Linked DNA regions of Homo sapiens. The protein of the gene in region 3 interacts with the protein of the main gene of each other region in a pairwise test. Each region holds a gene or a part of one and is shown on either strand. Other genes may lie near its edges.

Region 1 (3,500 bases), on a different chromosome or scaffold from region 3:
ACTCTCAAACACTACTAAGACATGACATCTAAATCACACACAAAAACAATACAAGATTTTGCAAATAAGAGGTATAGTAAAACCATACATACCTTTTTAAGGGGAACTGTACCTCTAAACCAGTTATAATCAGGAGAGACTTTAATCTCTCCCATGATTAGCTGAAATGGAGGTTAATCCTGAAATAAAAGCATGTGATATTTCACGTCAAGAATTCATGTTTACATCAGAACTAAATGTAGAGTCTCATCTAGCTATACCAACAATATTTTAAAGAAGAAAGCCAAGGAAACTGGCTATTTTGTCAGTATATAGTCCAACTACAGAAAACAATTTGGTGAAATACTACAATCACAGAATCAGAAGCACTCTTTTTTTTTTTTTTTTGAGACAGTCTCAGTCTTGTTGCCCAGGCTGGAGTGCAGTGGCGTGATCTCAGCTCACTGCATCCTCTACCTCCTGCAGTTCAAGTGATTCTCCTGCCTCAGCCTCCCGAGTATCTGGGATTACAGGTGCCCGCCACCACGCCCAACTAATTTTTGTATTTTTAGTAGGGATGGGGGTTCACCATGTTGGCCAGGCTGGTCTCGAACTCCTGACCTCAGGTGATCCACCCACCTCAGCCTCCTAAAGTGTTGGGATTACAGGCGTGAGCCACCATGCCCGGCCACCAGAAGAGCTCTTACAGAAATTATTCCAACACCCTTAGTTCTTCCAGAAAAGGAATCTGGTCTAGAAAATTTAAATGACTTACCCAAGATCACATGGCAATGCTAGGACCAGATGTGAGACAGCCTTTTCTGACACCATACTTCCTGTCTTAGTTCTCAACTGCAGTACCATCAGTTATCTTTTGACATTACCTTAAGAATCCCTTTAATAAAGATGCTCCTGTCTGATTATAGGGATAGTCCACGCTAGAGAAAGGAGTTGATGTTTTTTTACTTTTTTAATTTTTGAGACAGTCTTGCTCTGTTGTCCAGGCTGCAGTTCAATGGCACAATCACAGCTCACCACAGCCTTAACCTCTGAGGCTCAAGTGATTATCCCAACCTCAGCCTCCTAAGTAGCTGAGACAATGGGCACACACCACCACGTCAGGTGAATTTTTTGGTTTTGTAGAGATGGGGGCCTCCCTGTGTTGCCTGCACTGGTCTCGAATTCCTAGGCTCAAGCAATCCTCCCATCTTGCCTCCCAAAGTGCTGGGATTACGGGTATGAGCTACCACACCCAGCCTAGAGAAAGAAGTTTAAGTTAAGCCTGCTTCCTGATAAATTCGCAATACACCATAAATCTAACTGTAATAGCACATAACCAGAAATTCACATGTAGTTCCCTTTTTTTTTTTTTTTGAGACAGAGTCTCACTCTGTCACCCAGGCTGGAGTGCAGTGGCGTGATCTCAGCTCACTGCAACCTCCACCCTCCAAGTTCAAGCGATTCTCCTGCCTCAGCCTCCTGAGTAGCTGGGATTACAGGCACCTGCCACTGCGCCCGGCTAATTTTTTGTATTTTTAGTAGAGACGGGGTTTCACCATCTTGGCCAGGCTGGCCTTGAGCTCCTGACCTCATGATCCACCCGCCTCAGCCTCCCAAAGTGCTGGGATTACAGGCATGAGCCACCGTGCCCCGCCTACATGTAGTTCTTAATACAAAATACAGGCAAATTTGCCACTCATATGGACGTGATTAAAAGTTACACAATGTCCTCAGAAAGATCTATAATGTAAACTTGAAGGCACTATAACTAACAACAAAATGAAACATTTGCCCTTAGGAAAAAATGTGTAGTCTTTTGTTGTGAGCTTAGTGACTTCTGGTTTTCATAGCTCTGTGATCTTAGATAAGTCTTGATCCTTTTGGAGTTTGTTTCCTCATCTATGACTGTGTTACCACTGTGTCCCCAAAGCTTAGATCAGTGCTTGGCACACAGCAGGCATTATCTGTTGATTGAACGAATAACTACATTCTAAGGAGAATGAAGGGGGCCATCCTTCTAACCCTGGCATCTGTGAGCTTTGGCCTAGCTGAACATCCTCAACTAAAAGGCTGCCCCTCTTTGCTCAGGCATCTGTGCTATGTCATAACAGGAAACTGAAATTATAGTTCCCTGTTGCAGATTCTTATTGCCAAGTGAGGAAATTCCACCAGGAAGGATTCAAATATTTGCTTTGTACCACTTCCTCTACCTCAAGAGCAAGCCTTGATCCTAGCACGGCTAACACGAGGTGAGATTCGTGAGACCTAACTCCCGGGCTGACTCTGAACTGTCGTTTTAGAGGGAGTTCTCTGGACTGGCAAGGAACAGGGGATTCTAAACTCAATGGAACTCTTCCTTGGTGGCCCTCGAGATCTGCTCCCTCAGGAACACAGAGCCCTCAGTAGACTCAACTGTGACCTTGGAGACGTACTAAGCTGAACCCCGAGGAGACAGCAGATGTAGACATTCTAACACTAAACTTGATTTACAACCTTGACATTGTGATAATGGTCTCTCTTCTCAAAGCTAAGATGGTAATTTTAGAGAAGTGTGTTAAAATCATAAGTTGCTTTAAAGTACCAAGAAAATCATCAGCCAGTCTTATACTGAAAATTAGTGTGCACAGATATATATAGTGAAATAAAGAAAATTCTTTGCATATCCATTTTATCTTAAATATTAATATGTTAAGGCCAGGCACAGTGGCTCACGCCTGTAATCCCAGCATTTTGGGAGGCTGAGGCAGGTGGATCACGAGGTCAGGAGTTCAAGACCAGCCTAGCCAAGGTAGTGAAACCCTGTCTCTACTAAAAATACAAAAATTAGCCTGGCGTGGTGGCGCACGCCCGTAGTCCCAGCTACTCAGGAGGGTGAGGCAGGAGAATCACTTGAACCCGGGAGGCAGAGGTTGCGGTGAGCCAAGATTGTGCCACTGCACTCCAGCCTGGGCGACAGAGTGAGACTCAATCTCAAAAAAACAAACAAAAAAATTAATATGTTAAAAAATTTTGCCAGGCGCGGCGGCTCACACCTGTAATCCCAGCAGTTTGGGAGGCTGAGGCAGGTGGATCACCTGAGGTGAGGAGTTCAAGACCAGCCTGACCAACATGGCGAAACCCCATCTCTACTAAAAATACAAAAAAAATTAGCCAGGCATGGCAGTGGCCGCCTGTAATCCCAAATACTCGGGAGGCGAGGCAGGAGAATCGCTTGAACCCAGGAGGCGGAGGTTGCAGTGAGCCAAGACTGCACTCCAGCCTGGGTGACAGAGTGAGAGTCTGTCTCAAAAACAAAACAAAACAAAACAAAACAAAACAAAAAACAAAAAAACAAAAAACAAAAAAAAACTAAGCCATTTTAACTATAGGCTTTCTCTAAGCTGATTATAACTTTTAATTGAAAGCAACTAGCACATATACTTAATTCTGGAATATTTTCTACCTGGACAGACTTGAAATACTTCTATATCATCTAAATACTTCTTAATGGAGACATTTCCTAGTATTGCATTATTAGAAAC
Region 2 (3,410 bases), on a different chromosome or scaffold from region 3:
GATTATTTATAGAGCTTCTCTGAGAGAGTAAGAACAGCATGGTGGAGACTGGGTTTTCATTTCTATGGGGATAACTTACTACAAGGGCTCCCTATCCCTGCAGAAAACTTGGGTTGATTCTGTAAAGGGAATTCTCCTTCCCTCCAATTCTCATAATGTTCATTAAATGAAAATTCCTAGAAGTAAGGATCTGAGTCCTTCTGGGCCAGGGATCCAGAGTACAGACGATGTGCACATCTGCCCAGGCCCAGCCACTCCACGTCATGACTCTGGGAACTCCAACCACTGCTCCTCAACAGGCAGCACCGAAGACACAGCTCCAACCAACACAAACTACTACGGCATGGCATTGTGCCTTTTTGTCGAGGTCACCTTTCAAAGAATTGCTCTTTCTGACCTGGTGCTCCTCTTACCCTCACAGCTCGGCAGGAATCAGGAGGTAGGAATGCTATTACCAACAGGGATTTTCATGGATGGATAAAAAGGTCATGATGCAAATCCTCCAAAAAACTGGGCTCAAAACCCAAGCATCTTGTCCTCTAGGCCAGCATGAGAGGTCTGAAGTGTCACTGCCTCTAGCTAAAAGAGGGAAGGTCAGACAACCCTGTCCTCCTAAGGCCAATAATGGGAACTCTCACCAATGCATAAAGAGACACATTAAAAACGTATCTCAAAAGGCAGCCTGGATTGCAGTCTTTTGCAATCAAGAACCTGGGAGTCTAATGTTCTAGGGATGTCCTTTTAGTGGACCATAGGGGGAATTTAATTCCCCTACTTCTAGAACCCTCCATCTATCCCCAAAATATAAAGCCCTCTGGACACCAAATACTGACATAAACGTAATATTTGTGTAACAGGAAAGAAAGCAAATGCCTCAGCCAGTGAAAGTTAGCCAAAGCTTTAGAATTTCCCAATTATTAAAATACCTGATTTGTAGTACAGGATAGCTCTGATGTCTGGGAGGCAAACTGAGGCAAACTAAGGCCTGGAGCTTACCAGCTGATGAAAGGAAGAGCTCTCCTAGCTACCTAGAGAGGCATCCCTGAGAAAGCAGCCCTGCGGGGCTCAGATTCACACAGTGCTGGTCATAGTGCCATGGCACCTCAGTCCTGCCAGGACGGCACACTTTCCACCAACAGCTGCCCTCAGAGATTCATGCAGAGATAAAGGGAGTTTGAGGCAAGGCCTCTAATCTCCTAATGCTTGGTGCCTGCCTGCTGACAGTGGCCCTCGCTTCTCCTGGAGGCCAGGGTATCAAGAAGGCCTTGGTCCTAGTCTAACCAGAAGCCAAATGGATATGTACCTTGAAGCTATAACCTTGATCTACCAAGAATCTCTGCCGCTTGGTTGAGTAAGCCATTTCCTGTGTGTCCTGGGATACCAGTGAGTAGAAAAAGGCATTGTACTCTTCTGCAACCATCCCTGCAGGAAAAAATGAGAAACGGCAATAAAGAAGACAACATTAGCCATTAGAATGCCAAGAGCTAAGGGTCCCAGGCTCAAAAGCAAGCACTGGAGTGGAAAAGCCCTGCACTCGGGGTTACCACCTGAACTTGGCATGGGATTGCATCAAAATTTGGAAGTCTTTTGTGCTTCCAAGGACACCATCAAGTGAAAAAACAATCCTCAGAATAAAAAAATGTGGAAAGCATATATCTGATAAGGGATTTGTATCTAGGTTATACAAAGAACTGTTGAAACTCAACAACAAGACAAATTAATTATAAATGAGAGAAGAATATGAACAGATTACTTCTCCAAAAACAATATAAAAATAGCCAGTAAGCACATGAAATGATGCTCCACACCATTAATCACCAGGGAAATGCAACTCAAAAGCACAATGAGATTATCACCTCACGCCCCTCTCCGAGGATGGCTACAATCAAAAAAGCAGATAACTGCCACTGTTGTCAAGGATGTGGAAAAACTAGAACCCGCATGCATTGCTGTTGAGAATGTAAATGATGCGGCTGCTTTGGAAAACAGTCTGGCAGTTCATCAAAATGTTAAACACACTGTTATAACCACATGACCTGGCAATTCCACTTCCAGGCATAAATCCAAGAGAAATGAAACTATATCCACACAAAAATTTGTACATGAATTTCATAGCAGAATTCTTCTAAGAGCCAAAAAGTGGAAACAGCCCAAATGTCCATCAACAGATGTGTGGATAAATAAAATGTGGTATGTCCATGGAATCGAATATTATTTAGCAATAAAAAAGAATGAAGTACTGACAGATGCTACAATATAGATAATCTTTTTGAAAACATTATGCTGCCGGGTGTGGTGACCCAGTCCTGTAATCCCAGCCCTTTGGGAGGCTGAGGTGGGCGTGGATCACTCAAGGTCAGGAGTTTGAGACCAGCCTGGCCAACATGGTGAAACTCCATCTCTACTAAAAATAGAAAAATTAGCCAGGCGTGGTGGCTCATGCCTGTAATTCCAGCTACGCGGGAGGCTGAGGCAGGAGAATCCCTTGAACCTGCGAGGCAGTGGTTGCAGTGAGCCAAGATCGCCCCACTGTACTCCAGCCTGGGCGATAGAGCGAGATTCCATCTCCAAAAAACAAACAAACAAAACATTATGCTAAGTGAAAAGAAACCAGTCACAGAAGGCCCCAAGTGGTCTGACTGCATTTACATGAAATGTCCAGAAAAGGCCTACAGACATCAAAGTAGATTAGGGGCTGCCTAGAGCTGGGGGTTGGGAACAAGAGGAAATTAGGAGTGGCTGTGCATGGATGAGGGTTTCTTTTGGGAGCTGATGAGAATATTCTAAACATGAATTGTGTTGATAGTTGCACAACTTTGTGAATATTGTATTTCCTAGGTTTTCTTCGAGGATCCTTATAGTTTGAGGTCTTACATTTACATCTTTAATCCATTATGAGTTGATTTTTGTATGTGGTGATAGGCAGGGGTCTGGTTTCATCCTTCTGCATACAGTTAGCCAGTTTCCCCAGCACCATTTATTGAATAGGGAGTACTTTCCCCACTGCATATTTTTGCCAATTTTGTTGAACATCAGTTGGCTGCAGGTACATGGCATTATTTCTGAGCTCTCTATTCTGCTCCATTGGTCTATGTGCCTGTTCTGTACCAGTACCATGCTGTTTTGGTTACTGTAAGCCCTGTAGCATAGTTTGAAGTTGGATACTGTGAGGCCTTTGGCTTTGTTCCTTTTGCTTAGGATTGCTTTGGCTATTCAGGTGCTTTTGTGGTTCCAGATGAATTTTATAAGTTTTTTTTCTAATTCTGTGAAAAATGATGTTGGCAATTTGATAGAATAGTGTTGAATCTGTAGATTGTTTTGGGCAGTTTGGCAATTTTAATGATATTGCTTCTTCCAATCCTCAAGCACAGAATGTTTTTCCATTTGTTTCTGTCACCTATGATTTATTT
Region 3 (3,733 bases):
CCCTGGGGCGGGGTCTTGGGGAAAGGGGAAGAAGAGATCACTCTGCTGCACATCCCTTATACTGTCTGTATTTTGTGCCGTGAAATTTGTTGCCAATTAATACAAATTTAATTAAAACTAATCCTATCACTGTTAACATTAGGGTGTGTGTACTTCCTATCTTTCCCCTCCCCTTGCTGCTTTATAGCTTTTCTTTTTCTTTTTTTTCTTTTTTTGAAACGGAGTCTCGCTCTGTTGCCCAGGCTGGAGTGCAGTGGCGCGATCTCCGCTCACTGCAAGCTCCGCCTCCCAGGTTCAGGCCATTCTCCTGCCTCAGCCTCCCGAGTAGCTGGGACTACAGGCGCCCACCACCACGCCCGGCTAATTTTTATAGCTTTTCTTAATATTGGTGTCACACCATACATGACGTTAGGTAATCTGCTTTTTAAAATTGATTGATCTACTTGTGAGGCATTTTGACACATCATAATATCCTTTCACAAGAGCATTTTAGTGGAGATTCTAAAATTTTGATGTTTGGACGCATAACTTAGTCCTCCGTTTAAAAAGCTTTTGAAACCACTAATACAATTACATTTTTACGTATCTGATTGCTTCTGTAGAATATACTCCTAAAACAGGAATTGCTGGGTCAATGGGTATTTTTTTAAGGTCTTTGATACATATTGCAAAACTATCCTCCCCAAAGTTTGTAGTGATTTAAACTCTCATTAACATTTCTCTTTGCATTACACCATGTATGTACACATGAAGTTTTTTTTGTTGTTGTTGTTGTTGTTTTTTAAGTCTGGATCACAGGGTATGTGGATATTCAGCTTTCATAAACAAGGCCAAACAGTTTTCCATGGACATTTGGATTGTTTCCGTGTTGCCTATTGTGACTAATGTTGCTATAACTGTAAACGTGTAACAGAGACTGAGTTTTCTAAGAAAAAGAGCATTTTTCTAAGAGAAAGAGAATGAATTATTTTTAAGATTTTCCCCCTTTTTCTCCTGTCTCCCACTTCCTACTTAGCTCTTTATTTTTATTTTTTTTAAGATGGAGTTTCACTCTTGTTGCCCGGGCTGGAGTGCAGTGGTGTGATCTCGACTCACTGCAACCTCGGCCTCCTGGGTTCAAGCGATTCTCCTACCTAAGGCTCCCTAGTAACTAGGATTACAGGCACCTGCCACCACGCCTGGCTAATTTTTGTATTTTCAGTAGAGACAGGGTTTCATCATGTTGGCCAGGCTGGTCTTGATCTCCTGACCTCCGGTGATCCGCCTGCCTCAGCCTCCCAAAGTGCTGTGGTTACAGGTGTGAGCCACTGTGCCCTGCCTCTACTTAGCTCTTTAGAAATGTAATTATAACCATTACCTTCCCTTCACCAGATAGTCCCTACAGGGCAAACTTATCTACCTACTTAGAGGGTCTAGAACCAGAACTTTCTCCCACCAGGAGATTGCCTTAAGAGACAACAGTCAATTTACAACATAAAGTATGCCTTCAACAGAACTCTTCCACCCGGACAGCATCTCAAGACAACGGCCACATTACAACCTAGTTCTGCCCTCAATGGCACCAGCTCAACCACTTGGTAGAAAACGCATCAAAATGAGTCATATAGACCCCCATCTGCTTGCTCCTTCCCTGCATGCCATTCATACAAAGTCCCCATTTAAAAGCCTCTGCTTTCTGCCCCAAAAGTGAGGCGGTACCGTTAAGGGCAGGAGGAGCCTGTACCTCTTCCCCTAAGCTAATCTTTAGAATAAAACCACTTTCTTTATACCAGACCTCGCTCTTGTTAATTGAACTCTGCAAAGCGTTGAGCAACTGAACCTGTGTTTCGGTCACATAACATTCTTGTGCAGGTCTTTTGATTCACATATGTATGCATTTCTGTTGGATATATGTCTAAGGTGGGAGAAAATGCTGCTCATTATAACCACTTCTATTCAACAATGTTCTAAATGTAGTAGACAGTAACTCAAGGCACGAAAAAGAAGTGAAAGGAAAGAATAAAGATCGGGGAAATGAAAGATTATTATTCATAGGTGACATGCTTATTTACACAAAAACCCAAATAATCTGTAGATAGCTTAGAAGTACTAAGTGAATTTATAACAGCCACTCAGTATGTCAATATACAAAAATGGATAAATCTCATATTGAGTGAAAGAAGCAAAACACAGAAGGGTATAGTGTGAATGATCTACTGAAAGTTCAAAAACAGGTAAAACTAACCTATAGTCCTAGAAGTCTGGAGAGTGGATCCCCTTTGGGGATAGTAAACAAGAAGGCACATGAGGAAGACTTCTGGGGAGTGGAAATTTCCATTTCTTGATCTGAAGGTGGTTACAAAATATGTTTCCTTTTTAAAAAATCATTGAGCTGATTGATCTGCACATTTTTGATTTGTGCACTTTTTTTTTTTTTTTTTTTTTTAAGACGGAGTCTTGCTCTGTTGCCAGGCTGGAGTGCAGTAGTGCGACCTCGGCTCACTGCAACCTTCGCCTCCCGGGTTCAAGCGATTCTCCTGCCTCAGTCTCCTGAGCAGCTAGGACTACTGGTGCATGCCACCATGCCCAGCTAATTTTTGTATTTTTAGTGGAGACAGGGTTTCACCATGTTGTGCAGGCTGGTCTCGAACTGCTGACCTCAAGTGATCCACCTGCCTTGGGTTCCCAAAGTGCTGGGATTACAGGTGTGAGCCACCGTGCTCGGCCTTTAAATCAGTATGTTAGCCTTTGTATGGAAAATGTAAATTTATTCAGTGCCTCTGTTTTGATATTCACTGTCCCCCTCCCAACACCAGGGGCAGTGATCACCATTCTTTGGTTTCCCTCTGTCTCCTGATGGTTACTTTGCACTTGAATAAACTCTGCTAACTGGATACTGAGCCTTCTTTAGATTGAGTCTTTTTTAGGTTGACACCCAGTAATTCCACTTGAGAAATTACTCCTAAAAAATAATCTGAAAATGAGGTATGGTGTGTTCATTCTCTCATTCATTAATTCAATTCAACAAATGTGTACAAGAATGGATGTTTATTACAGCATTGTTTTAGAAATGAAAATGTAAACATCCAACATTATGAGATTGGCTAAATATGACACATCCATTCAATGCAATGCCATGCAACCTCTAAAAACAATGATAAAAATAAAAAATTAGCTGGGCATGGTGGCACACACTGATAGTCCCAGCTATGAGGGAGGCTGAGGTGGGAAAATCATTTGTGCCCAAGAGGTCGAGGCTGCAGTGAGCCATGACTGCACCACTGCACTCCAGAGCAAGACTCGGTCACACACACACACACACATAGTGATAATATTAGCTGGGCACAGTGGCTCACTGTATAAATCCCAAATATATATATGTTCATAATATATCAGTAAATGAAAACAGATGACAAAACAGTATGTATAGTATGACACCACGTTTGTAACATAAAAAGATATATTAAATATATCATTATATGCATATTAGATGTGCTAAAAAAGCTAAAAGGACAAATAATAATAGCAGTTATTCACAGAAGAGGGATTATGAGTAACTTTTTTCTTTCATTTTCTAATTTTTCTACAATGAACATGTATTGTTTTATTGCCTTTAATAATAAACATTTTTTAAAAAACAAGTTCTTAAAATAAATAAATAAATAAATTCTAATGAGAAAAAAAGAGGGACCTCCATTTCCATGATCCTCCTCCACCCAACATCCCACCATCTCCACCGTCTCCACCCTATCCC

The links.
Region 1: the proteins of TRIM14 (region 3) and SPG21 interact in binary tests that used the Homo sapiens proteins (3 or more experiments, as listed by UniProt).
Region 2: the proteins of TRIM14 (region 3) and ERCC3 interact in binary tests that used the Homo sapiens proteins (3 or more experiments, as listed by UniProt).

Annotation. Positions count from the first base shown.
Region 1 is NC_000015.10:64,983,415-64,986,914, forward strand, and holds part of SPG21 (maspardin), read right to left. Parts: intron 180-3,500; 5' UTR 156-179; coding exon 93-155; intron 1-92. UniProt on the Homo sapiens protein: May play a role as a negative regulatory factor in CD4-dependent T-cell activation.
Region 2 is NC_000002.12:127,259,925-127,263,334, forward strand, and holds part of ERCC3 (general transcription and DNA repair factor IIH helicase/translocase subunit XPB), read right to left. Parts: intron 1,423-3,410; coding exon 1,304-1,422; intron 1-1,303. UniProt on the Homo sapiens protein: ATP-dependent 3'-5' DNA helicase/translocase. Binds dsDNA rather than ssDNA, unzipping it in a translocase rather than classical helicase activity. Component of the general transcription and DNA repair factor IIH (TFIIH) core complex.
Region 3 is NC_000009.12:98,088,158-98,091,890, forward strand, and holds part of TRIM14 (tripartite motif-containing protein 14), read right to left. Parts: intron 1-3,733.